Linked DNA regions of Homo sapiens. The protein of the gene in region 7 purifies or fractionates together with the protein of the main gene of each other region. This does not show direct contact. Each region holds a gene or a part of one and is shown on either strand. Other genes may lie near its edges. The genes, in order: NFKBIB, FLII, ARFGEF1, NAPA, SCO1, RNF146 and LRPPRC.

Region 1 (3,210 bases), on a different chromosome or scaffold from region 7:
TGGCAACAGAGTGAGACTGTCTCAAAAAAAAAAAAAAAAAAAAAAAAGGTACCAAGTAGCTGAAAAGCCTGTGACCTGGGGGCGAGAGGCAGGCCCTGAACACTGGGTCCTGAATGACGTCAGTCCATCTGAGGAGGGGTCTGGTCTCAGGTGGCTGGGCTTATAGGCAGGGGAGCAGAAACTTGGATGTCAGGGCTGTGGGCAGATGAGCCCTTCTTCCCATGAGGCTGAGGAGGGCTGTCTCTGAACCCTGCTGCCCATTGCTGGGAGCCTGGGGTGCCAGAGTTTCACAGAGGGCCTGAGCTCTGCATTCCCCGGTCCTGGGTAGGGTAGGGGTCTGCAATACACTCTGCAGGTGGGGAGCCCGGGGGCCCGACAACTGGATCCTGGCAGCTCTGGGTCTGTGGGTGACAGGTCTGCATCCCAAGTGACCTGGGGCCTCCAGGTGGGGGTCCTGGGTCCTACATATCCAATTCTCAATCATCTGGGCCCTGAGTGGAGGTCCCTGGTCCCGATGTGTGGGCTCCTGAAGCCTAGGCATGATTTCCCAAGGAGCTCAGTCTCAAATCAGGGAAGCTGAGCCCAGGGCCAGGTGCTCTCGCCTAGCCCAGGAGCTGAGTCCTTCCCTGGTGACGACCCTCACCCTCGTAGTTTTCAGCCTCCAGCTGCAGCTTCCAGTCCTCCTCACTCTCCTCTTCTTCCTTCTCCAAGTCGGAATCGGGGTACAAGGCGACAGGGGTATGGTTGGTGTCGGGAGTACGGTCAGGGCCCTGAGCGAGGTAGGTGTCGGGGGCTTCCCTGGGGCGCCGGGGGCGGGGCTGAAGCAGGGCACGGGCACAGGCGTGTGCCCCCACACGGCAGGCCAGGTGCAGCGCCGTGTGGCCCCTACGCTCCGCCACACACAGCCCGGCGCCTGCTGCGTACAGCTTCTCCACCGTGGATGTCTCCCCCAGGATGGCTGCCAGGTGCAGGGCTGTCTGCAGAAGCAGAGGACAGGCGGTAGGGAGTCACACTGGGAACCCTGGACCCCAAGCCCTACACCATCCCTCGTGGCTCACCTGGCCTAGGTCATTCTGCAGGTCCATGTACTCAGTGCCGGCCGAGAAGCCTAGAAGAAAATCCAGGAAGGGTTCATGCTGATGAATCACAGCCAAGTGCAGTGCCCTGGGGACAAAGACCGGGGTGAGAGGGCAAAGTTCAAGTCCTCTTGCATTCCTTCATTGAACAAACATGGGGCGCCTACTGTATGCTAGGCCTTGTGACCACAGTTCTGGAACCCCCTGTCAGCTATCTGGGAGGTCAGAGGTCAGAGTTTCATCAGCAAATTCGTGGAATCAATGTTTATTCAGTGGGATTTCCACTTCTGCCCAAAATGAAGTAACATGGACCAGAATTCACTCCCACGTGAAACAAACAAACAAACAAACAAGAGTCAGACGAAATACGGTATATGAAGCAACAGTGTTGAAGACACTGGACATCGTGCAATGAATCACAGTGACCCCTGAAAGACAGGAAACACGAGGTGGGCCCCACACTTGACTGCCACAGCTTATTGTCTTGAGAGAGTTTCAAAGCCACGGTGCAGAGAGGGGAATCCAAGCAGAGCGCATCAGGTTGTCTGAGGTCAGGAGATGGATATGGAGGAAGAGTCTGTGGAGGCCAGCGTGGCTAGAGTCACAGGACAGAGTACAAAACAGAGTTGCCAAAGGAGAGATTGCTGGGGAACTGCAGGAGGTTCTCTTGTGTATTCCGGAGAATACGGATCAGCCATGCCTGTGAGTCTGTGGGGATGGGAAAACCATCCAAAAGGATTTCAGAAAAGTGCTCGTTACTCACACAGGGCCAGGAATAGTGAGTGTTCCCACCAGCCAGGCTGGAAAAACATCATCACAGGCTATCGGGTGGGATACTCAGGAAGGTCTTGCCTCAATAGTGGGGAATAATTAACTGTAGATGGGGCACTGCTCAACACCCACCTAACAAATCATAAAAGCAAAACTGGAAAGACTCAAACTACTTCCGAGTAATTTAACTCCATCCCAGAATAATATTCAAGAATATTTATTTATTTATTTATTTATTTATTTATTTTAATTTTTATTTTTTGAGAGAGAGTCTTGCCCTGTCGCCCAGGCTGGAGCGCAGTGACACGATCGTGGCTCACTGCAACCTCCACCTCCTGGGTTCAAGCGATTCTTCTGCCTCAGCCTCCCGAGTAGCCGGAACCACAGGTGCGTGCCACCACACCTGGCTAATTTTTGCAGTTTTTAGTACAGACAGGGTTTCACCATGTTGGCCAGGCTGATCTTGAACTCCTGACCTCGTGATCCACCCGCCTTGGCCTCCCAAAGTGCTGGGATTACAGGTGTGAGCCACGGCGCCCGGCCTCAAGAATATTTATAGGAATACAGAATTCTCCAGACTAACAAGGCAAAATTCACAATGTCTGGCACCTAACCAAAGATTATCAGGCATGTAAAGAAGCAGGAAAACATGATCCATAATAGGAACCATCAGTGAATTGAAACTGACCCAGAAATGACAGAGATGTTAGAATTTGCAAACAAGAATATTAAAACAGTTCATTATGCTGGGCACGGTGGCCCACACCTGTAATCCTGGCACTTTGGGAGGCCAAGGCGGGCAGATCACTTGAGGTCAGGAGTTTGAGACCAACCTGGCCAACACGATGAGACCCTGTCTCTACAAAAAATACAAAAAAAATTTAGCCAGGCATGGTGGCATGCGCCTGTAATCCCACCTACACAGGAGGCTGAGGCAGGACAATCATTTGAACCTGAGAAATGGAGGTTGCAGTGAGCTGAGATCGTGCCACTGCACTCCAGCCTGGGCAACAGAGTGAGACTCCGTCTCAAATAATAATAATAAAATAAAATAAATTTCTTTTACTCTATGTGAAATGGCATAATATCACTTTAAGGTAGCCCATGATAACCTAAAGTTGTAAACTATCAACCCTACAGCAGGAGTCAGCAAACTTTTTCTGTAAGGAGCCAGATAACTATTTTAGTCTTTGTAGGTCATATGGTTTCTCTTTTTGGTTTTGTTTTTCTTTTTCTTTTTTTGTTTGTTTGTTTTGTTTTTTTGAGATGGAGTCTCGTTCTGCTGCCCAGGCTGGAGTGCAGTGGCGTGATCTCAGCTCACTGCAACCTCCGCCTCCCGGGTTCAAGCGATTCTCCTGCCTCT
Region 2 (3,500 bases), on a different chromosome or scaffold from region 7:
GGGCTGAGAGGTCAGGGAACTGGGTTCTCCTCCCACCCACCTCTGGGGCTGGCTGGGGGCTTAAATGAGACTGTGGAATGTACTCTGGATGCAGGGAGGTGGGGCCCACCTTCTCCCCACGGGCACCCTGGCACTGGCCACCTCCCTCAGGAGGCCTCTGCTGGGTCCCCCTTGCTCCAGGGCACACCCCTTGCTTGTCTCTCTTGAGCCCTCTCAAACCCAGCATGCCTGACCTCGATCTCCGTCAGGAAATGGATGGCTTCTGGGAGGGTCACCAGGTGGTTCTTGTTCAGGACAAGTTTCCTCAGCTTTGGGCACCTGTGAAGACAGGGCCAGCCAGGGCCTCAGGCAGGTGACAGACAAGGGGAAGTGGGCAAGAAAACCCCTAGTCCTGGGGAGGGGAGGCAGGTAGGGTCAGAGGAACTGGCGGGGGTCTCCATTCTCTGCCTGAAGGACTTCTCAGAGCCAAGAGACCATGTTACGGGCACTGTGATCTCCAGAAGGGGAGAGAAGCAACACTGCGTTCCCACGTCATGTGGCCTTGTCCCTAACAGTGCCCCCCGAAGGGTGCTCTCAGGGGCTCAAGTTGGGAATGGCTGGCATGGGACTGTGGTCTTCATCCACAAAGGTGAGTTAACTGGGCCGGGCGTGGTGGCTCACACCTGTAATCCCAGCACTTTGGGAGGCTGATCATTTGAGGACAGGCATTCAAGACCAGCCTGGCCAACATGGTGAGACCCCATCTCTACTAAAAATACAAAAAGAGCCGGGCGTGGTAGCGCACGCCTATAATCCCAGCTACTCAGGAGGCTGAGGCAGGAGATTCGCTTGAACCTGGGAGACAGAGGCTGCAGTCAGCCGAGATTGCACCACTACATTCCAGCCCAGGCGACAGAGCGAGACTCTGTCTCAAAAACAAAAAAGAAAAGAAAAGAAAAGAAAAGGTGAATTAACCCATCTTCATTTTGTCTGACTTGCACAGACCACAAGGTGGGCTCTGACTACGATCCCGGGGTTCTCTGTGCTGCAAGTGCCTCTGCTAGCCCCAGCCCTGCCCAGCACCTGCAGAGACTTTCAGGGACCAGCTCCAGGTTGTTGTTGGCAGCCATGAACTCTTCCAGGTTGGTGAGCTTGCCAATGCCTGAGGGCAGCCCGTCAAAGTCCAGCTTGTTGGAATTCAGGTACAGCTTCTTCAGCTTGCTCAGCTTGCAAATGGCTGACTGGAGGGGGAACGGGCAGGGGTGGGAGGTCAGGGCCAGGCTCACGGCCTTCCTCCCATCCCCCTACTGAGGGCCTCAGACGCACGGGCAGTGAGGTGAGCTGATTTCGGGACAGGTTCAGAGTTTCCACGTGCACCCACTGGTCTATGCACAGGGACAGCTCCGTGATCTGGTTGCTGCTGAGGTTGAGGCGGCGCAGGCTGGGGAGGGTGTACAGACACTCGGGCACCCGTGTCAGGTCATTGCAGGACAGATCCACGTCTGGGGTGCAGGGTGGGGTGCATCAGCTGGGGCCCATACACCAGGTGCCAGGGCAGCCAGCCCTAGTGTGAACCCCAGCTCTGCCACCTCTGAGCTGTGTGGCTTAGGCAAGTGACAACTGCTGTGCGCCCAAGTTTCTCCATTTGGACAAACTCCCTCACATGGGGGTTGCGGGGGAGTTTTCTAGGCATAAAGTCAGTGTTAAGGCATCATCATAATCGCAAAAGTCACTGTAACATAACTCCAGCCTTTTCCCTCTGGGTATTGGTCCGAAGAGCAGGGTTCAACCCCTTCCACCCAAGGAAGCAAGAGGGCCCAGAGGGGGCCCGAGCTCAGAGGGGCTCCTGGGGCTGCCTGACCTGCGAGGTTGCTCAGACCCTCCAGGCTGGTGGGCAGGTTGCTCTGGGTGCGCTGGGTGCTCCGCAGGTGCAGGGTCTGCAGGGCCGTCATCGCTGGGAGCTGCCTGCCAGGGTGACGTGAGTGGTCAGGGCCAGGGCCCACCTAGGGAGTGTTAAGGGTGGGGCTTGGCAGGGCAGGACCAAAAGCACAGGGCCCAGAGGGTAGGTGTGAGGTCACATCTGGTTGAAGGGACAAGCCCAAGGGTGGTTGCGGGGTGTGTAAGCGGGAAGACAGGACTGAGAGGTGGACATGATACTTAGGAGGTTGTACACTGAGGGGTGCTGCCTGCACGGAGGGATGGCTGGGCCTAAGGGAGAAGGGTTAGGGCCCTGGGAAGTGAAGGGGCCCGGCCAGACTCCTCAGGGTGGCTTCTGCAGGAGTGCGGTCCGAGGGGGCGCCCACCGGAGCTGTGCATGCAGCAGGGGGTTTCCATTGAGCACGAGCGTCTGCAGGTGCACCAGGCGGCGCATCTGCGGGGGCAGGCTCTCCAGGCGGTTCTCGCTGAGGTCCAGGTATAGTAGGTCAGTGAGGTTGATGAAGAGCTGGTTGGGGATGGTGTCGATGCTACGGGTGGGGAGCAGGAGCCACCTGAGTCAGCACCAGCCACCCCACAGGGCCCACCTGCCCCCTGCCCCCCACTGGCCTGGCACCTGTTGTGGCTGAGGTTCAGCACCAGCATGTTCTTGGCGTTCTCCAGCTCCCGCGGGCACTCTGTCAGCTGGTTGTGGCTCAAGTCCTGGGTAGAAGGGGCAAGACCCAGGTCAGGGGAGTCTCCTCCCCACCAGGCGTCTGCCAAGCTTGGGGATCAGGCAGGGCACTGAGTTGGGTGTGGGGGTAGATGAGGGGGCTTCAGGGCCAAAGGGAGACAGCCAGGGACTTGGGAGGAAGAGTGCCTGTGTTAGGGATCTGACTCCAAAAGTGACCTCAGGCAAGGTATTATCCACTCCAAGACTCAGTTTTCCCATCTGCAAAATGGGATAACAATGGCCCCAGGGACTTTTATAGTGAGTGGGGATTGAATGGTCCGGCTAGCACAGGGGCCAGGTGAGTGGGTAGCCACTGACCAGGACTGAGAGATCATCTAGCTTGAAGATGTCATCGGGGACTCCGGAATTCTTCAGACTGTTGGCTCGGGCCACGATGGCCTGGGAATAAACCATAAGAGTCTATAATTCCTGGCTTCCACTCTCAGGAAGGAACAGAGTCTAGAGAGGGACACCTCCTCAGGCAGCTCACCAGAGGCCAGGCCTGAGGACTCTCTCACCTCTGGCCTTTGATCAAATAGCTCCCTCTCCTGGAGCGCTCTTCCTAGCCTCCCAGTGAGCTCCTATTCATGCCTCAAAGCCCAGCTCAAATGTGCCCCGGAGCCCCAGCACAGGGCCCTCAGGGAACCTTTTCTGTTCAAACCATTTCTCTTCTTCTTAATTCCAGAAGGTGAGATAGGGGTAAGGTCTGAGTCAGGGTTTTCAGAACAGAGGGAGAGAAGTGGACCACAGAGAAATCAGAATCTGGATGGAGAGGAAGTCTGCTTTCTCTCCCTAACTTAAGACTGACACCTCCTCATACCTTACAGACATGCAGAAAGCTTGAGCATGAGGGAACAGGGCCAGAGAATGGTGT
Region 3 (3,500 bases), on a different chromosome or scaffold from region 7:
AATACTAAAACTGTGACAAATAGATGTATTCACAAGGTAAGAAAATAACACAGTAGAAGTAACTAACTTAGATGGTCATAATATATTTCCTGGGAAAGGTGACTCTGGAACTATTTTGAAGAACAATTATATCTTTTATAAACAATAAGAAAAAACATGCAAGAGAGGAAGAAGCCATACTAAAACACAAAAGCACAAGACAGTATTATATAATAAATAGTTCTGCATTGTTGGAAAGTGAGGTGAGACAGAAAAGTGGCAGGAAATGAAGCTTAGAGTCCAGCAGATCCAAATCATGAAGGTATTATCATACCTTCAAAGCAGCTTTGGTTTTATTCTCTAAGAGAGGGAAAAAATAGACTTTCATTCAAGAAAGGTTACTCTAGTTAAGCATGGGAAAAGACTGAAGAATGAACAAAACCAAAGAAAAAGGTAAGCCAATTGAAAGATTATACTAGTTGAGGAAATAAATAATCATGATTTGATTTGCAAGAATAGTGGTGGGAGATCGAGAAAAGAGTACAGATTGCAGGGATATTAGGAAGTATAATCAACAAGTCTTAGTGACAGATTAGATTCGAGAATCTAATCCTTTGAGGGGAAAATCTAAGCTAACTCCCAGGATTTTAGCTTATAAATTTAGTAGCATGCTGGGGTTACTACCATAAATAAGAAATACAAAAATAACAGGCTTCTCTATTTGTCTTTTGTTTTGGGTAGGAGAACTAAGGGGCTGATGTTGGAAAAGGGCTGAGGAACAGAACGCTGGCAATGCTAAGATGCACGCAGGAAGAAAGAAAAAACAGCCCACAAGACTGAGACGGCATAGTCAAAAAGGTAGGAGAGAAACAGGATAGACTGGTGTCATGAAACAGTTGTAGACAAGTATACTAGGAATACAGTTCCATGAAAGCATTCTCATCAATGGCTGTATTAAGTAGAAAGCAAGTCTAGCTGCTGAGAGAAGGACTGGGAGACTTCCACTTCGAAGCCCTCTGACTACTCCTTCTCATTTCTCAAGTACTTCAAAATAAGTACCTTGGCAGTACTTACTCTGTACGACACTCTTTTATAAACATTTACACAGTACTATTTTTAAAAATTGCTCATGTTTAGAATGCAATCTTGAATACAAGGACCAATGCCTTCATGGTGCTTGGCAATAGTCCCAAGTACCAAATATGTGTTTACTGGGTGACCAGCAGAATTTCAATATGCATATTTGTTTACACACACTAGACCAAGAGCCTCTCAGAAGGAAGGGCTTTTCCATGTATCTAGTTTCCCCAGGATCTTGCATAATATCTGGAAAGATGAGACTTTAATAAATATTGACTGAACAATTAGAATTAATGCAGTAGTGACAGCTATTTCCTGAGGCAATTTGGTAAGATTTTGTAATTTTAAAATAGAATATGTGTACATTTTTGTTGAACTGTTTTTCATATTAACACTGGAGAAAAAAGACACCTGAACATTCACTAAAAGGCACTGCTTAAGTATCAGGAAGAAATGCTTTACAGAAGTAGCAAACCAAGTAAGCACACAGGGGAATTTTTAAGTTTATAATAGTTAGATTCATGGAGACGGCAAACAATTTCATTTTTCCTTATGGCATCTCTTTGAAAAAAAGAGATGGGCAACAAGAGAAAGGAAGGCAGCATGGTGACATTCACAAAGGAAATAGTCCAGGAGCAGGCAGGTATCACAAAGCTTAGTGGGAAAACTGACTTCACAAGATTAGGATCCGGTACACTAGCCAGGCTGGAAGAGAGGTGATCACCTCATCAACATATAAAAATGAAATCAATAACAAGAATAGTACATTTGTAAGCCAGCTGGAAAAAATGTAAGACCTATAAAGGAGTACTGATAGCTATTAGAAGTTTCATATTTTAAATGTTTTGAGTTGTCACATGATTAGAAAATATAATGGGGGGATGTCATGAGCTAAACAGTGCAAAATTGCACAGATGATACCCATCAACAGCACTTATAATATGGTGACAAATTAATTTATATGACAAGAGTGGTTGGGCATTACAGGAATCTAGTTGGGCTAGACTGCAATGAACAAGGGGGGCTGAATAGGAGCCTCGTGAATTAGATCCATGAGAACTATCCTCCATTTTACTCATTATAAGGTGATAAACCCACGGCAGGGGTGGCACTATACTGGCAGAGAGATATTCAATAACATTTCTCCTTAAGCTATGACACTTACAAATCTATCCCTTGTTCTATTATTTCTTTTTGTTGCTTTAGGACCTCAAATTGTTCTGGATTATCAGTGCCAGACATCTGTGTACTGTAGCTGCCTATTCCTGATGATGATGTTGACTCCAGGGAATTTAAACTTCCGTATCTGTTTATTGTCTCAGGGTGTTTGATTTCACTCATCTCTTGCTCTGAGGGTTTTTCCTGACCTGAAAGAAGAAAAATTGATAGAGTACATTATTCTATCAAAGAAAAAAAAAAGTGTAAGGGCAAACAAATTCTTGAATAAGGCAAGGCGTTTCAATGTTGCTTAGATATCTATTTAATACAAAATAACTATTAGGTAACATAGTAAACAACATACTTTGATATTAAAACACACTGTAATTTGTACGTGTATAGTCTGCACCATTAGGAGGAGTTCTTTTTGCAGTTGCAGTGCTGAGTATCCACTGGATTTCTGCTCTCAGCTCACTCCTCATGAGGAATTGTTTTCGATAATACCAGTGTAGCCCTGCAGCTATGAGTTTTTCTCTGAGTGAGGGTAAACATCAAACACAGATGAACAATTCAACCTTCTTAAAACATACTGCCTTTTATATGTTTCCTCTATAATTATAATACAAGAAAGTTGCATAAATATGCTTCATTTTACATAATCAAAATATTTCTAAGAAGATTTAGAAAAAAATAGTTTGGATAACTAAGTTAAAAATCTCACAATTTTAAAGCTAGACATTTAACTCACAGAGAATGTTTCCTCATCAGTTAAATGAATAAATATGTCATGAAATTGGTTTAACAGCAGCTGCAACTATCCTCCAAAGTATTATTCACTTAAAATGACAAAGAATTACAGCTCAAAATATCACCTTACCAAGAGTTGTCTGGGAGTTGGGATTCACATACTGATCCTTACTCCATTCAACCATACACTTCAAAATCGACACTAAGCATTCTAAACCTTTTTTCCTCAGGCTCAATTCCTACAAAGTAATTCAAAAACAAAATTTTTTTTAAAGGTCTTTTAAGGAAAACACATGACTCTTTCCTGGTAAAGTTTAAATTTGAAAATGTTTTTATAGTTCTTACCTGAACATTACTCATACCAAGTTCTTGACTGCCCCTTCCTTGAGCAATTTTTGATAGATCATTTACTAGTCTTTCAAATATATTGGCTGCATTTAAGTCACAGTCATAGTTTACATAAATATCCACTACACTCTGAGCATCTGTAACAATATAACATTAATTTCAACAAAGTACATCTAGGATATGAGTAC
Region 4 (3,500 bases), on a different chromosome or scaffold from region 7:
CACATCTCTACTGAAAATACAAAAATTAGCCAGGCATGGTAGCACACGCCTGTAATCCCAGCTACTCGAGAGGCTAGGGCACGAGAATCGCTTGAACCTGGGAGGCAGAGGTTGCAGTGAGTGGAGATCACGCCACTGAACTCCAGCCTAGATGAGAGAGAAACTCTGTCTCAAAAAAAAAAAAAAAAAAAAAAAGAGAGAGAGAGAAAGCACTGACAGGAGCCCCGGCCTGGGTGGGACCCTTCACTCTGGCTCCAGTTGGCAGCTGCCCATCTGGTCTGCATCTGTCGTTGGCAACGCGCCCTGGGGGCAGGGCAGGTGCTGAGCCTCCTGTGGGCTCTGCCTATCCCTGTGGCCTGCTGCAAGATGCTTATCAAATGTGACACTTGCGGGAAGGCTGGGCAAGGGGAAGTGCCGGACACACACTCTCCAGTAACCTAATTTCTTTTTTTGTTTTGAGACAGGGTCTTGTTTTGTCGCCTACGCTGGAGTGCAGTGGTGTGATCACAGCTCACTGCAGCCTCAACTTCCTGGACTCAAGCGATTTTCCTGCCTCAACCTCCCAAGAACTAGGACCCCAGGTGCATGCCACTACACCAGGCTAATTTGTTGTAGAGAGGAGGTCTTGCTATGTTGCCCAGGCTGGTCTCGAACTCCTGTGCCCAAAAGATCCTCCCACCTCAGCCTCCCAACATGCCAGGATTACAGGCATGAGCCACCCTGCCCAGCTCAATAACCTAAGTTCTATGAATGAAAACCATGACTGCCTGTGGAGTGAGGGGGCCGTCAGGCTGGTGGGGAGCTGGGTGAAGACCCAGCCAGCCCAGGCCAGCTCAGGTGACCTAATCCCCCCAGCTCCCACTTCCCCCTCCCCAAGTGGTTTGGCCGCAGAATAAGAACAGTGCTGGGGGTGCTGAAAGAGGGGACGCAAGGCTGGGGCAATGCAGTGGGACCCGGGGGTGTCAGGACAAGCAAGCAGCCCTTACCATGTCTGTGTAGATCTCGATTGCTCGCATCAAACAGTTAATGGCCTCTGGAGAGAAAGGGAGGTGGGAGGAGACATGAGAAAGTGAAGTCGTTTCAGCAGAAGCTGAGGAGAGGAGGCGGACGCAGGCGCACCTGGCTGCCAGCAGAGAGATCAATAGGCGCTCAGAGCTGCCAGCGCTGCCACACACTCTCAAGGGGCTGGGAAGAAGGGGACGGAATCCCTGAGCCCCAGGAAATCTGGTGAGAGGGCTGACTCTGCAGACTGTGACTTGCTGGGCACATGCTTCTGGGGGAGCCCTTCTCTCCTCGGGCTGCCAGGATGCTACCAGCTTCCCACAACCCCAGGGACAGGGCACAGCAGTGCTAGGCCAGGATGATGGCCAGACTCCCACGGTGTTTTAAGACAGACCTGCCAAGGCCCTGCTCTTGAAGGACTGAGCTGCTGGCAAAGGGGAAGGAGGCATGGGAGGCGGCCAAACCAGCATCTGAGGTGGTCTTGGAGGCAACAGGGTGCCAGGTTCTACCTGGGCTCTGCCACCATCTCTGCAGGATCCTGAGCAGCTTCTGCTCCTGCACCAGGAGGACCTGGACCTCTGGCACGAGGAGGCTGGATGTCATCAACACTGAGCCCTCAGTGTGCTCTCCACTGCCCCCTCTTCCTCGTAGCTCAGCAGTCGGGAGCCCTCTGCTCAGTCCCTTTAACCTAGTCCTGCCACCCACCAGCTCCTCAAAGGTTTTGCCAAAAAACCTGAACACACCAGGATGGCACTGAGGAAGAACTGGGCTACCTTTGTTGTACTATCTCTTGCAAGATTTTAAATTTGGGAAAGGCTTTTTTTTGACAAGTTATTTGGAGGAGAGAGAAAAGCATGAGTGGGAGGCATTTTCTAGCAGACAGAAATGAGCTCTCAGGGGGTATTTTTTAAGAACACCATTTTAGCACATCTCAGGAGGACAGGGGTGTTGTGGGGAGGGAGGCCTGGGTTGGGGAGAGGGAAAGGCAGGGAGCTTGGACAGGCCACAGGGCATGGGCTCTGAGCTTCAGCCTGGGCATCTGAAAGTTCCTGGTCACCGTGGGGGTCTCCATGGTCACCCAGGCCATGTTCGCCTGAGAAGAGGGTGCTACCAAGAAGCGCCGGGGCTGGGCTCCTCTCAAGGGGCTCACGGTCTGGATGGGACTCCAAACTCCCTCCGTGGGGAGGCATCTGGACAGAGGCTCTTTGTCTCAGGTCTGTGGCTGGGCTTTCAGGGAGTCCAACCCCTCCTTCTGACATGTAAACAGTGGGGTCCATAAGCACTCCTCTGGGGAGTGGGGTCTGTAGGTTTTGTCCAATTCAGAAAGACCTCTGGGGATCTAAAAGGGACTGAGAGAAGGTACAGCACTCAGTCCAGGTTCTAGGGCTGACAGACCGAGACTGTGGCAGCAGACAGTGGAAACGGTGGCAAAAAGGGGGCAGATGAGGAGGAAGGGGAGAGAACACAACCTAAATCCGGCAGTTTGAAGACACATACATCCTGTAATCGGCGGACCCAGAAGCAACGGCTAAGCCGGGCCACGCTGCAGAGGAGAGCAGCAGCTGGAGTGAGGTGAGAGGCCCGCCTTGCCCCGCCCCACCTGGCTGCAGTCTCCACATGGAGGCCCCGGGCTGCTCACTGGTTCACTCTCCTGGCCGGAACACCCAGGACACCAACCTGGCACCCTGTGGGCTGAGGCGGCAAAGGCTGCTGCTCCGCAGTGAGCAGTGAGATCTGCAGCTGCCACCTGGGCCTGCTGGCACTGGCTCTGGAGCACCCGCCGTCAGCATGGCACAGTCCTTGCAGTAGCAGCAGGGAGACAGCTTACCCCCCAGGCAGCAACATGGACTCACGGGGTTAAGTCCCCTCCATGTCTGGAAAGCGGCGGGCCACCAGCAGACACCTGGGACAGCTGGCTCCTGGACGAGCTTCTGACACACTCATGACTGCTACTCTTATCTCAGGTCACCAGGCCTTGTGCACTCGGACAGGCAGAGCAACACCCAGTTCTGTGGCCTGGCCCCTCCTGTACCCACCCACAGAGGGCTGGAAAGGGGCTCAGAGCAATACAGCCCAAGTTGGGGAGCTATGGCCCAGGCCACCGCCCATCCCCGCAGTCACTCCTACCAGCGACGCCCAACCTGACTTCTGCGTCTCTGAAGCCCTTCCTGGTTACACTTGGTCATCTCCTCCTTAGTAAAATGGGGGCAAATCACAGAATGCACAAAGAAATCAAATGGGTTAAAAGATGCCAAGCATCTGGTACACAGTAGAAACCCAGTAAATGGCAGCTGGGGAGGAAGTGGGGGACAAGCAGGGGCCAGGTCGCTTCTCTGCCCCAGGTACACACACTGCCCCCACCCCCAACTATCAGGCAGGCCTGGGAAGAGGCCTCGCTGGCCCGAGTCTGCCCTGAGCAGCAGCCATGGTTGGGTAACTGAGGAACCAATAACACATATGAGCATCACCCTTCCCCACCCAGAGCCACCAAGGTGGCA
Region 5 (3,500 bases), on a different chromosome or scaffold from region 7:
CAATAGATTTCCTCTTCATTAGTCAAATCTGATAGTGATATTCATTAATAAGGAAAACTAAAGTTTTCAAGCATCAACTCTGAATGGCAGAGACCCTAATCTGACTGTTATTAGCCACCAAGAACTCAGAAGAGCAAAGAACTCAAGAAGAGGCAAGCAAGAGCACTATGGAAATTATATTCTTTTCTGTGAAATTCAGTCCCACAGCTATTTGAGCAAGGGCCCAAGACGATGGAGAGGCGGCAAAGCTGCTGGGAGGGCCTGTTCGCAGGCAGGAATGCACTGGCTGTGCCTCGCCCCGCCATGTCCTTCCACAGGTGGGCTCTTCACTGGCTTCACTTCAGCTTGATCCTCTGGTCTCCCCACAGCTTCCTGGGAGACTTTGGGTTGTAATCTTTACAGTTCCAAGAATCAATTTTGGTTGAACGCAAGGGTAACATCCCCATCCAAAACAGAAATGTTCTCATGGTATGAAGGCCATTCTGTAGAGTGCACGTATATATGTTTATATTTATATAGGCTCCTATGCGAGACAGTTTCCTTCCTCTTAGCAAGAGAATACTGCATCCAGCAACACTGCTTTGGCTAGCTCTTTTTTCTGTATGGCCTCATGTGTGTGGCAATTGAAGCAGCTATTTCTCCCTTCCTCTTGTTCTGGCCAAAATAATCTAGAAACTCACCATCTGGTCCAATCAAGTACATTATTATTGTGTGATCCACCTGCAGAGAAAAGGGGGGAGAGTGTGACAAAGATTACCAAAATAAGCTGCTTATTTTACTGAATGTATGCTGCAAGATAAGAGAACTTTACATTAATGCTTAAATAACCTTTACAGCATCTATTATTTATGGAATAGGCTTAAGTCTATCATAGCAAATTCCTAACAAAAATTGTCTAAAATCTTTTGTGTCCTAAACATCTGCACTGGTTATTGCTTGTCACATCAGCTAGAACCTGAAATTCTTTTGGTTTAATCCTTAACATATTTACCCACACACTCTGAGAAAAGAATTCACCTTCTAAGAAATAGCTGCTGCAGGCTTTCATAAAGCAGTCAATGTTTGTGGAATAGCAATGCTTGTTGAAAAATACCTTCATTTTTGAGTAAGATATCTCCTCAGACCCTAAACATGTTACAAACAGACATCACATGGAATTAAGTGTTGGTGAAAAACTGCTTTCTTTAGTAAGTTCTTGGGTTTATTCATGTTTTAGAAAGAACTGGTTGTCATTCATTACTGCCAAAATTCTGCTTACCACGCTTTATGAGAAGAAATCAGAAAACTAATCATTAGTTTAAATAATCTATAAATTTGAACAATATTTAGTTTTAATATTAGTAATTCAAACAGAAACAGGAAAAGAAACATTTTTCTCCCCAAGGAAATTTTTGTCTCCTCCACTGAATAATCCTATCTGAAATCAATCCATCACCTGGAAAGCAAATCCTCGGGAGCATAAATGCTGCCCCCCTAACCAGAGAGTCATCGTAAACTCAGCATCCATTTTCCCAGCAAAGTCCTAAAATGGTCCCAGCTCTAACTTTAACTTAGATTAGTCATCAGATTTTTTAGTTAGACACTTCCATAAAATCCAATTTTAAGTGAGATTTGGCACTTAGAGTCCTTGGAATTTATTGCAGGCTTGACTGCTATTTGGCAAGACAAAGAAAGACAGGAATGTGACTACAAATACCAAACTGGAGACACCTCCCAAACATACCCCAGCACGCACTATATGTCTGTGAGGGTATTATTTTTTATACACACATTCTTAAGATAGCAAATGGAAAGAGCACTTGCCTACCCACATAAGGAAAGAATGTACACCAAAAGAGCGCCAACAACTGGATTCCAAGTGCTGTGGGATAGTTCACCGCAGGAGCAAGACGGGGGGCTACGTTTCTCCACATATTTGATACAGAAATCAGAATTAAGTCTCCAGTTCTCTCTTCAAGCCTTACTCTGTAGCTTACATCACTCTTTCTCCCTATTTCTTCCTTTTCTCTATTCTCTGTTAAAAAAAACAAACTACAGTATGTGGGACTTATTTTCTGAGTGTTCTTAATATAAATTACCTTGTAGTACACAACAAAAATATTATTTTATCTGTATCTGTCGAACTTGTCAGAGGTCACTCCTCAATATTCCTTTGGGTTGTGACAGAGCACATTGACATTTATTCTAATACAGAGGTCTACAGAGGTCTTCCAAGTTCTAGTACTTCCTTGTATAGAAAAAGGACACTAGCATTAACTGACAAATTCTTTCACATGTCATCTTAAGCCATGAAACAGGTATTCTCCTCCTCTTCAAATGATATCACAGGCTGGAGAGAGTAAATTATATAATTGGTAAGTGCCAGGCCTAACTTTAAAACCTAGAATCTGTCCAGTTTCAAAGTCCACAAACTTTTATCACCACGTTGCCTCTAGCTCCAATTCTAATGGAGAGCAGCAACTCAGTTTTTCTAGTGTGCAAGTTACGTTTTAGTGTGAATTATTTTTTGAAAAGGTAATATATGCACATAGAAAACGAATATCCAGTTAATGTATACAATGAAAATGTCCCTCCCCCTCTTCACACCCAGAGTGCCTCAGTTCCCCTTAGAGTGAACCAATGCCATCAGTTCCTTCTGTATCCTTCCGAAGAAATTCTCTGCATCTACTATGTGTATATATCCACTACCACTTATTTTTTTTATACACAAGTAACAATATATTCTACAGTACTTGCTTTCTCATTTAACAATATATTGGACATTGTTCTACGTTAGATTATACACAGTAGTTAAAAAATGGTTACTGGATTTTCAGTTTTTTCTCTTTAAAAACAATGCCATAGGGTATATTTATAGGATAAAGTCCAAAAAGTAGAATCTCTTGCATAAAAAGTATATAACTTTAAATGTGAGAAATACTGTTAAACTGCCCTCTGAAGAGGGTGTATGAGTTTAATTCCTATCAACAATGCATGAGTGTGCCTGCTGTTCCAAATTCACTCCTGCAGTTTATTTCCTGCTTTTCCAATTTCGACAATATATTTTCAGATTTTCTGACCACTGCTGAGCCAAGAGAAAAATGTTACCTCATTATACAATTCACATTTCTTTTATTATGAAACTGCACATTTAGGTTTGAAAGCTATTTGTATTCTTTTTTCAAAAGTATTTTCTAACTAATATCTATATAATAATATAGTATTATATATATATAATACAATAATGTGCAGATCCAGCTTTCTATGGAATTCCAAATATTTGGTATACCCAGTTCGATCACTCTGAAGAGTCCACTCAAAAGCCAGAAGCTTGCCTGTTGTTGCTGTCGTTTGGGATTAAGAAAACTTCATTCCATTACATCTCAACATTAACCTTAAAGGTACCCCCTTACTTCCTGCAGGTCCTTAAATGATAACAGAAGTTTCCCAAACCATCCTATGGATGAAAATCTGTGACCTCAAGGGACTGAAGTCATACTAATGAAAAACCTAAGAAGCTG
Region 6 (3,500 bases), on a different chromosome or scaffold from region 7:
GATTTCATGTAGAACATTTACTGTTTTGTGTATTTTGAATAAATGGCAAAAATCTTATTAAACATTAGCTGTTAATAATTAGAAAAATACAGTAAGTCTTCAAATATTTATAATTGATATTTGTCTTTGTTTTTATATGTATTTATATTGATGTTATATGCTCATCTTTTTCTTTGATTAAAGATAATCGCTTGCTTGAATCTATTACCTGAAAAAAACTCTTGACTTTGATCTTGTGACTGACTTGAAAAGTGGGAGTATGAGTATTTTGAGTTGTTACAAATTATAAATGGTACAATATTACTTCATTTTTAGTTGTATTTATTTTTCACTTATTTGAATGGGTCAAGATTTAAATTCATTGATAATCCCTAAACCCCTTTGTGTATTTTTAAGTTTTACCTGTCACTGTTTTTTTCCTCCAGAATTGTTAGGGGCAAAGTATCTAATTTGGTTTTAGACTTTTTCTTTTTTTTATGTTACCTTCTTCATACATCATCATATTAAGTTTGGTGTAAAATTTACAGGTCATTCATTCCAGTAGGAATTATGTATGTTTGAGTTATTTATGTTTGGCAAATTAATTCTGGCCTGTAGTTGAAATCATACTGTTCTGTTTTACATCCCCCTATTGGTTAAAATAAAAGCATCCCTTCTCCTCCAACTTTAAAAAAACTTTGGTTTCAAATAATGTGGGAGTTTTCTGAGGGCTTCTTCACATGATTGTTATAAGTATTACATGTATGCCCTATTTTGTGCCCAGTTGAAATTATAGTTGACCATTGAACAAAGGTTTGAACCGTGTAGTTCCACTTATACAATACTTTTTTTTTCTGCCCCTGCCACCCCTGAGAGAGCAAAACCAATGTTTCTTTCTCGTCCTCCTGAAAAAGATGAAGGCCTTTATGATGATCCATTTCTACTTAATGAATGTAAACATATTTTTCTTCCTTATGATTTTTTTTTTTTTTGAGATGGAGTCTTGCTCTGTCATTAGGCTGGAGTGCAGTGGTGCGATCTTGGCTCACTGCAACCTCCACCTCCCAGATTCAAGAGATTCTCCTGCCTCAGCCTCCCAATTAGCTGGGACTACAGGTGTGCGCCACCATGCCCAGCTAATTTTTGTATTTTTAGTAGAGACGGGGTTTCACCATGTTGGCCAGGATGGTATTGATCTCTTGACCTCATGATCTTCCTGCCTCAGCTTCCCAAAGTGCTAAGATTACAGGCGTGAGCCACCGCACCTGGCCTCCTTACGATTTTTTAAATAATGTTTTCTTTTTTTTAGTTTATTGCAAGAAAACAATATATAATACAACATACAAAACATATATTAATCCACTGTTTATGTTATCAGTAAAGCTTCCAGGCAATAGTAGACTATTAGTAGTTAAGTTTTTGGAAACTCAAAAGTTTACATGGAATTTTGACTGCGCAGGGTGTAGACATTCTTAACTCCTCACATTGTTCAAGGGTCAACTGTATAAATTCTGAGAGTTAATAGGTGATGGGTCAGTTTGGCAGAATTGGGGCTACCTAAACCCATTAACTTTGATTATAACAGAATATGCAGTTTTCTTTTTTAATGTGTCTTCGGCAAAAGTCTAGGTAAATTAACATTGAATTCATTGTCTCTATTAAACAATTCCTGTAGTGACTTGTCAGTTTTGTATTTAACAAGATTAATATGCAAGACATTCTAGACCAGCATTGCCCAGTAAAGTAGCCACTAGCCACATGGAGTTATTGAGCACTTGACATGTATCCAGTCTGAATTAAGTTGTGCTGTAAGTGTAAAATACACACTGGATTTCAAAGAAGTATGCATACGCTTACCCAAGAACATAAAATATTACATTAACAATTTATATTGAAACATACTGAAGCAGTAATGTAGAAACGTTGGATTAAATAAAATATATTATTGAAATTAATTTTACCTGTTTCTTTCTATTATTATTTTTGTAGAAATGGGGGTCTCACCATCTTGCCCAGGCTGGTCTATAACTCCTAGGCTCAAGCCATCCTCCTGTGTCACTACCCACAAAGTGCTAGGATTACAGATGTGAGGCACCATGCCCTGCCTCTTTTTATTATTAATGTGGCTAATAGAAAATTTGAAATTGCATACGTGGCTTGCATCATATTTCTATTAGATAATACGTGACCTTTTCTGTGAGAGACAATACATTGTAGAAAGACATTTTTAAAGGTAAATTTGAATTTGAATCGCATCTCCCAATATTGATGGCTTTGACTTTGGGTAAGTCATTTAACTTCCTGAGCTTAGGCTTCCTCATTTGTGAAATAGGTATAGTCATATTTCACAGGGTTGTTTTGAGGATTCAGTGACATATGGATTTGGTAGTGTTTCACTAACTAATATATGTGAATCACTTGGAGATCTGGTTCTGTAGGTCTAGGGTGGCACTTAGGATTTTCATTTGTGAAGAGCTCCCAGGTAGTGCTGATAGTACTAGTTGGGAATCCCAGTTTGTTTGTATAGCTAGGATCTAGAGCATTATGTTAGTTTTAATTCATTTTCCTTCCCCAGCATTTATCCAGTTAGTCTGCACTTTGAAAAAATTATTCATGAGGATATAGAAATTGAAAAAGTCACCAAAGCATGCAAGATTTACTAAAATTATATGAACTGTGGACTCTTAGGGCTGCTGTAGGATTCCTGTTTACATCTGTTAAGTTTTTTGTCTGCTTTTATCTGGAGTCACTTTTATTGGTTGCATAAGATGGCTAAATCTCAGCCAAGAAGAACCTGGTTGTGTTGTTCTACGCAAATGTATTTTTGAAAGATAATGCATAATGAGAGGTGAAATAAAAGAATGCTCAAAGACAATAAGAGGGCAGTACAATTGACCCTTGAGCAACATGGGGTTAAGGGTGCCAACCCCTTGCACAATTGAAAATCTGAGTATAAGTTTTGACTTCCCCAAAATTTAACTACTAATAGCCTACTGTAAAGTCAGTTAACACGTTGTTTGTTATATGCATTACATACTATATTCTTACAATAAGCTAAAGGAAAATAAATTCCTAAGGAAGAAAAAATACATTTACAGTACTGCATTTACCGATACTGTGTTTATGTTACCTGTTTATAAGGTGTCTGTCTGAAATGATGGGTAACTGCAGCTGCAGACCCATCTAGGGTGTGTACCAGGTAATTTAACTTCTTGTAATGGCATGACTTCTTGGCTTCTTGGGAGCACTTCTAGCATCACTAGTGGCACTTCACATGGGTCCCATGGTGTTATTCAAGGTTTATGGTATTGTACTAAACATGATGAAAAATACACAAGAACAAGAGATTACATTTTACTCCAATACATGCAGAGATGATTAGTGTCCACAGCATTTTAAGTGGAAATTCATAATAGCAACAGGAAATTATTACAGTATGTACTACAATTAATTTTATACAGCTATGATTCATACTGCATCTTTACATTTGTTTAAATTTCTTGTACCACCTCAAGTGGCAC
Region 7 (3,500 bases):
TTCTAGTGTATAATGCCGATTTCAAGTTAATTACTACTTGCATTTCTAAACGAGACTACAATTATAAATCCACAATAGCATGGTTTTATCATTTCCCTGCAACTTTGACTACAAATTATAGATAGGGACTATGTGCCCACTCTGTACCACATAACCCTGTATGGTCTGCCCTATAGCTGTAAGATCCTCCTAAATGGATGCTTTTATCGTTCAGAGCTAACATCTGCTAAATCACACCATTGTTTCTTCAGCAGATGGCTTGTCAGGAGGCCAGATAATAAAGATGTGTTTACACTGTATATACAGCCAGACTAATGGTCTGATACCGATAGGGCCTGTTTGCTATGTCGATACTAATTAGCCAAGCAGAGCCAATGAAAGCTTTCCAAAAGACTGCATGTTAATACATTAGATTCATTAAGCTTCATTAGGAAGGCAGAAACAAACATTTTAGGATATGGAATAAGTGCATTTTTATAATGTTGTTCTTAATTATTACACAGACAAAATGTTTTGACCACTTTACAAAAAGTGATTTTAAAAAAATAGGCTAATCCTTAGAAAGAGTTAGAAAGGCGTCCTAGGAAAACATTCAATGTTCTAATAAATGATTTTCTCCATACATTTTTCCCTATAATAAAATTAAAACAATCTTTTCTGAAAATCAAAGGAAAAGAGGAAGGCTAAAAAGGAAATTTCAAAATAAAGCCAAATCAGAAAGTTAAGAAACAAGAAAATAGTATGAATGTATTATCAAGTGTAATTAATTTTATTAGGCTTAGCATTATCTCAACGAGAAAATTTGAGTATGCAAATCAGCTGTGTAATCAGCTATGCTTTTTCCATGAACCATTAAATAAAAACCTTAATTAAAATAAAAACTTTAAAGTATATATTTTGTTAATGTTATTAAAAAGTAAGGCAAAGACTACTGCAAAATTCAGGCGCATATATTAGGTTATGTTTATAGGTTTTACGTTTATAGGTTTTACGTTCAGCCTTCAGACCTTCTTAAGCAAAAACAAAGCCATTAGTGCAGGCACATAAGCAAATTGTGCCATAAGTCATGATCTTCAAACTCAATCCAAACAGCAATGCTAATAAAAACTAGCTGCAGAAATGCAAAAAGCACTGAGCTGTGCAAATGTAAATGACAAGCTTGCCAATCCATTAAAACTAATGGCCTACACTGTCCATGTAGCTCTGGTTGGATTCACATGCAAATTTCTATGCAAAGTGTTCAAGCACTTTGCAGGACATGATATCCATTAATATCAATTCACATGTTATTCCAGTGGCAAGATACTTGCATCACATATTTCCTTTATGTGCTGAGGCTTACCTTGGAGCTTGCCATGCTTTGCCAATACTCTTACAAGGCCTACATACTTGCCGGTGTCAAGGACAGCAGATGAATCTAAGCGGTCACTAAAAATTAAAGCCACATTTATATTGTTTTAAAAGTCAATTAACTGCTAAAAGAACAGCAACATCCATTTAATCACTTTTCAAAAGCTCATCAGAAGACCTGAACTAATGTTGGCCTCTACGCTTCAGTTAGGATTTCTTTTTGAAGCCATATACAAGTTCACACGAAATTATATTCAAAGTGACTAGTGAAGTAAAAGCCCAACACTACATATATATTGCATCACTCCATCTGCAAAGGATACTTATGAAGAAACTCTTTGGCTTTAAGTGATTCTAACCTTCATCACGAATACTTGACATTTTTACTTGAAAAATCTAACAGGATAGGAAGCCAAAGGTACCTGAGAAATGGATAGAATTTTATTTACACTACAATATTGAAAGGGAAATGTTATCAAGCCTCTTAAAACAGTTACCACCATCACCACTGTTGTGATGATATATAATCAATGGAAAAAAACCTTTGGTTCTAAGGACTAGAATGTCTTATCATACTTAAACAAAGACACCTTGCTGAACATAAGCCACAATTAATTAAAGAGCCGTATAATACGAAATTTCAAAAACACTGACAACAAAAGAATTTTTAAAAATGACATTATATAAGAGAGTAATATTCCATCTAGATAATCTATCAAGGTCTGTAGAGCAGAATAAATGTTGACAACTTGTTTCAGTGCCAGGGTACTCACAATTCTTCTTTCAAGTTCAAGGCATCTTCTACTTTATCATGTCGACAGCATAAATTTATTAAAGCTGCATAGCCACCAGTAACCATGTCGGATTCATATTTTGCTTTCAATTCAAGGGCTTTTTGCATATTCTAAAATACAGCATAGATGTGAAAAAGAAGAAATCAGTGTGAAGGTAAAAATGTCACATTTTTAGCTTTACTGTTCAGAGTTTAGAAAAAGTTAATAGTACTTTAAAAATAAATGGTTTCATGTTAACAACCTGACTCTGCCCCTTGATATTTTTATTCACCTCTAAGAAGTGGGCAAGTCTTACACGTGTAGGGGTTAAAAGATGTGTTATCTGTAATATAAAATAGGCCATTATTTATGCCAAATTTGATGTTTTAGGCTTTGTGTATGGTATTATTTAAAAAAGACTTCCAGATTAAGTAATTCCCAAATCAAATCCTAATCACAGTCTAATTTCAGGATGCAGAAATATGTATCATTGAAAAGTTTCTCAGTCTAGTTTAGTATCCAAGTAATATGAAGAAATATTTTAGAATTTAACAGTAGCAGATTATAATCATAAAGTTAGTCATGATATTTTTTCCCTAAAACTACAAGTTTATGGCTCAATTATATTGAACTAGAAAGTGAAAAATAGTCTAGTGATATCCCACAAATTGCAGACATACACTAAAATGAACACAAAGTACAGCTGGATGCCCGCTGAAAAAAGGCAAGGGACCCTTTATCTCAGAAAGAGCTTTTTTCCAGCAGGAAAATGGAATTTCAATCCCTGCATTAACAACCTAGTAATATTTGACTTGCAAATGACTACTGCGTGTATCAGTTGCTTGACAATCTAGATATAAGAGACCGGAGCCATGGCTTGAAAGGACATTTGGCATGTATGATAAACCTATCACAGCTGTTACTATCATTCACTTTGCAGATTATCGTAAACAAACTACAGCAACCAGAAAACATGCCATTCAAGGTGTAGCTGAAATTAGTTAACCTTTCATTTAATTGCATTCTTTACAAGCCTGACATATAACGATCAATTGTAAAAATCATAAATATTATATTTGGTTTTTCTTATTGTTACCAAGAATTTTTTGCCTTAATAATATTTAAATATTAAAACAAATGTTACCTCTTCTGAACAAAGCACTAATATGAGTTGCTTTAGGACATCTCTTATAGGTTGATTTTCAGCTTTTAGTGTTTCAAGTGTGGACTCCAATTCAGATGATGTAAGTTGCACAGTCTACAGAAAAGAAAAAAGAAAAGAAAAATTTCCTGAAAAAGGAAATATAGTATGCCTTTTGTCACTCTTCCCTTTAAACTGACTTTCCTTTCTACCTTCCTAAATGTCATAAATGCTAT

What was found.
Region 1: the proteins of LRPPRC (region 7) and NFKBIB purify together in Homo sapiens (tandem affinity purification; 2 studies listed by BioGRID and IntAct, with this or other methods). This does not show direct contact.
Region 2: the proteins of LRPPRC (region 7) and FLII fractionate together in Homo sapiens (co-fractionation; one large-scale study listed by BioGRID). This does not show direct contact.
Region 3: the proteins of LRPPRC (region 7) and ARFGEF1 fractionate together in Homo sapiens (co-fractionation; one large-scale study listed by BioGRID). This does not show direct contact.
Region 4: the proteins of LRPPRC (region 7) and NAPA fractionate together in Homo sapiens (co-fractionation; one large-scale study listed by BioGRID). This does not show direct contact.
Region 5: the proteins of LRPPRC (region 7) and SCO1 purify together in Homo sapiens (affinity purification with mass spectrometry, with the first as the bait; one large-scale study listed by BioGRID). This does not show direct contact.
Region 6: the proteins of LRPPRC (region 7) and RNF146 purify together in Homo sapiens (pull-down; one large-scale study listed by IntAct). This does not show direct contact.

The regions. Positions count from the first base shown.
Region 1 is NC_000019.10:38,902,969-38,906,178, reverse strand, and holds part of NFKBIB (NF-kappa-B inhibitor beta), read right to left. Parts: intron 1,165-3,210; coding exon 1,059-1,164; intron 978-1,058; coding exon 644-977; intron 1-643. UniProt on the Homo sapiens protein: Inhibits NF-kappa-B by complexing with and trapping it in the cytoplasm.
Region 2 is NC_000017.11:18,252,239-18,255,738, forward strand, and holds part of FLII (protein flightless-1 homolog), read right to left. Parts: intron 3,026-3,500; coding exon 2,945-3,025; intron 2,617-2,944; coding exon 2,531-2,616; intron 2,445-2,530; coding exon 2,283-2,444; intron 1,945-2,282; coding exon 1,841-1,944; intron 1,482-1,840; coding exon 1,306-1,481; intron 1,221-1,305; coding exon 1,063-1,220; intron 319-1,062; coding exon 234-318; intron 1-233. UniProt on the Homo sapiens protein: Is a regulator of actin polymerization, required for proper myofibril organization and regulation of the length of sarcomeric thin filaments. It also plays a role in the assembly of cardiomyocyte cell adhesion complexes.
Region 3 is NC_000008.11:67,263,782-67,267,281, forward strand, and holds part of ARFGEF1 (brefeldin A-inhibited guanine nucleotide-exchange protein 1), read right to left. Parts: intron 3,450-3,500; coding exon 3,310-3,449; intron 3,204-3,309; coding exon 3,095-3,203; intron 2,427-3,094; coding exon 2,225-2,426; intron 1-2,224. UniProt on the Homo sapiens protein: Promotes guanine-nucleotide exchange on ARF1 and ARF3. Promotes the activation of ARF1/ARF3 through replacement of GDP with GTP. Involved in vesicular trafficking.
Region 4 is NC_000019.10:47,494,564-47,498,063, forward strand, and holds part of NAPA (alpha-soluble NSF attachment protein), read right to left. Parts: intron 1,034-3,500; coding exon 987-1,033; intron 582-986; exon of another isoform or gene 465-581; intron 1-464. UniProt on the Homo sapiens protein: Required for vesicular transport between the endoplasmic reticulum and the Golgi apparatus. Together with GNA12 promotes CDH5 localization to plasma membrane.
Region 5 is NC_000017.11:10,680,534-10,684,033, forward strand, and holds part of SCO1 (protein SCO1 homolog, mitochondrial), read right to left. Parts: intron 721-3,500; coding exon 586-720; 3' UTR 1-585. UniProt on the Homo sapiens protein: Copper metallochaperone essential for the maturation of cytochrome c oxidase subunit II (MT-CO2/COX2). Not required for the synthesis of MT-CO2/COX2 but plays a crucial role in stabilizing MT-CO2/COX2 during its subsequent maturation.
Region 6 is NC_000006.12:127,269,864-127,273,363, forward strand, and holds part of RNF146 (E3 ubiquitin-protein ligase RNF146), read left to right. Parts: intron 1-3,500. UniProt on the Homo sapiens protein: E3 ubiquitin-protein ligase that specifically binds poly-ADP-ribosylated (PARsylated) proteins and mediates their ubiquitination and subsequent degradation. May regulate many important biological processes, such as cell survival and DNA damage response.
Region 7 is NC_000002.12:43,943,990-43,947,489, forward strand, and holds part of LRPPRC (leucine-rich PPR motif-containing protein, mitochondrial precursor), read right to left. Parts: intron 3,382-3,500; coding exon 3,268-3,381; intron 2,255-3,267; coding exon 2,124-2,254; intron 1,429-2,123; coding exon 1,343-1,428; intron 1-1,342. UniProt on the Homo sapiens protein: May play a role in RNA metabolism in both nuclei and mitochondria. In the nucleus binds to HNRPA1-associated poly(A) mRNAs and is part of nmRNP complexes at late stages of mRNA maturation which are possibly associated with nuclear mRNA export.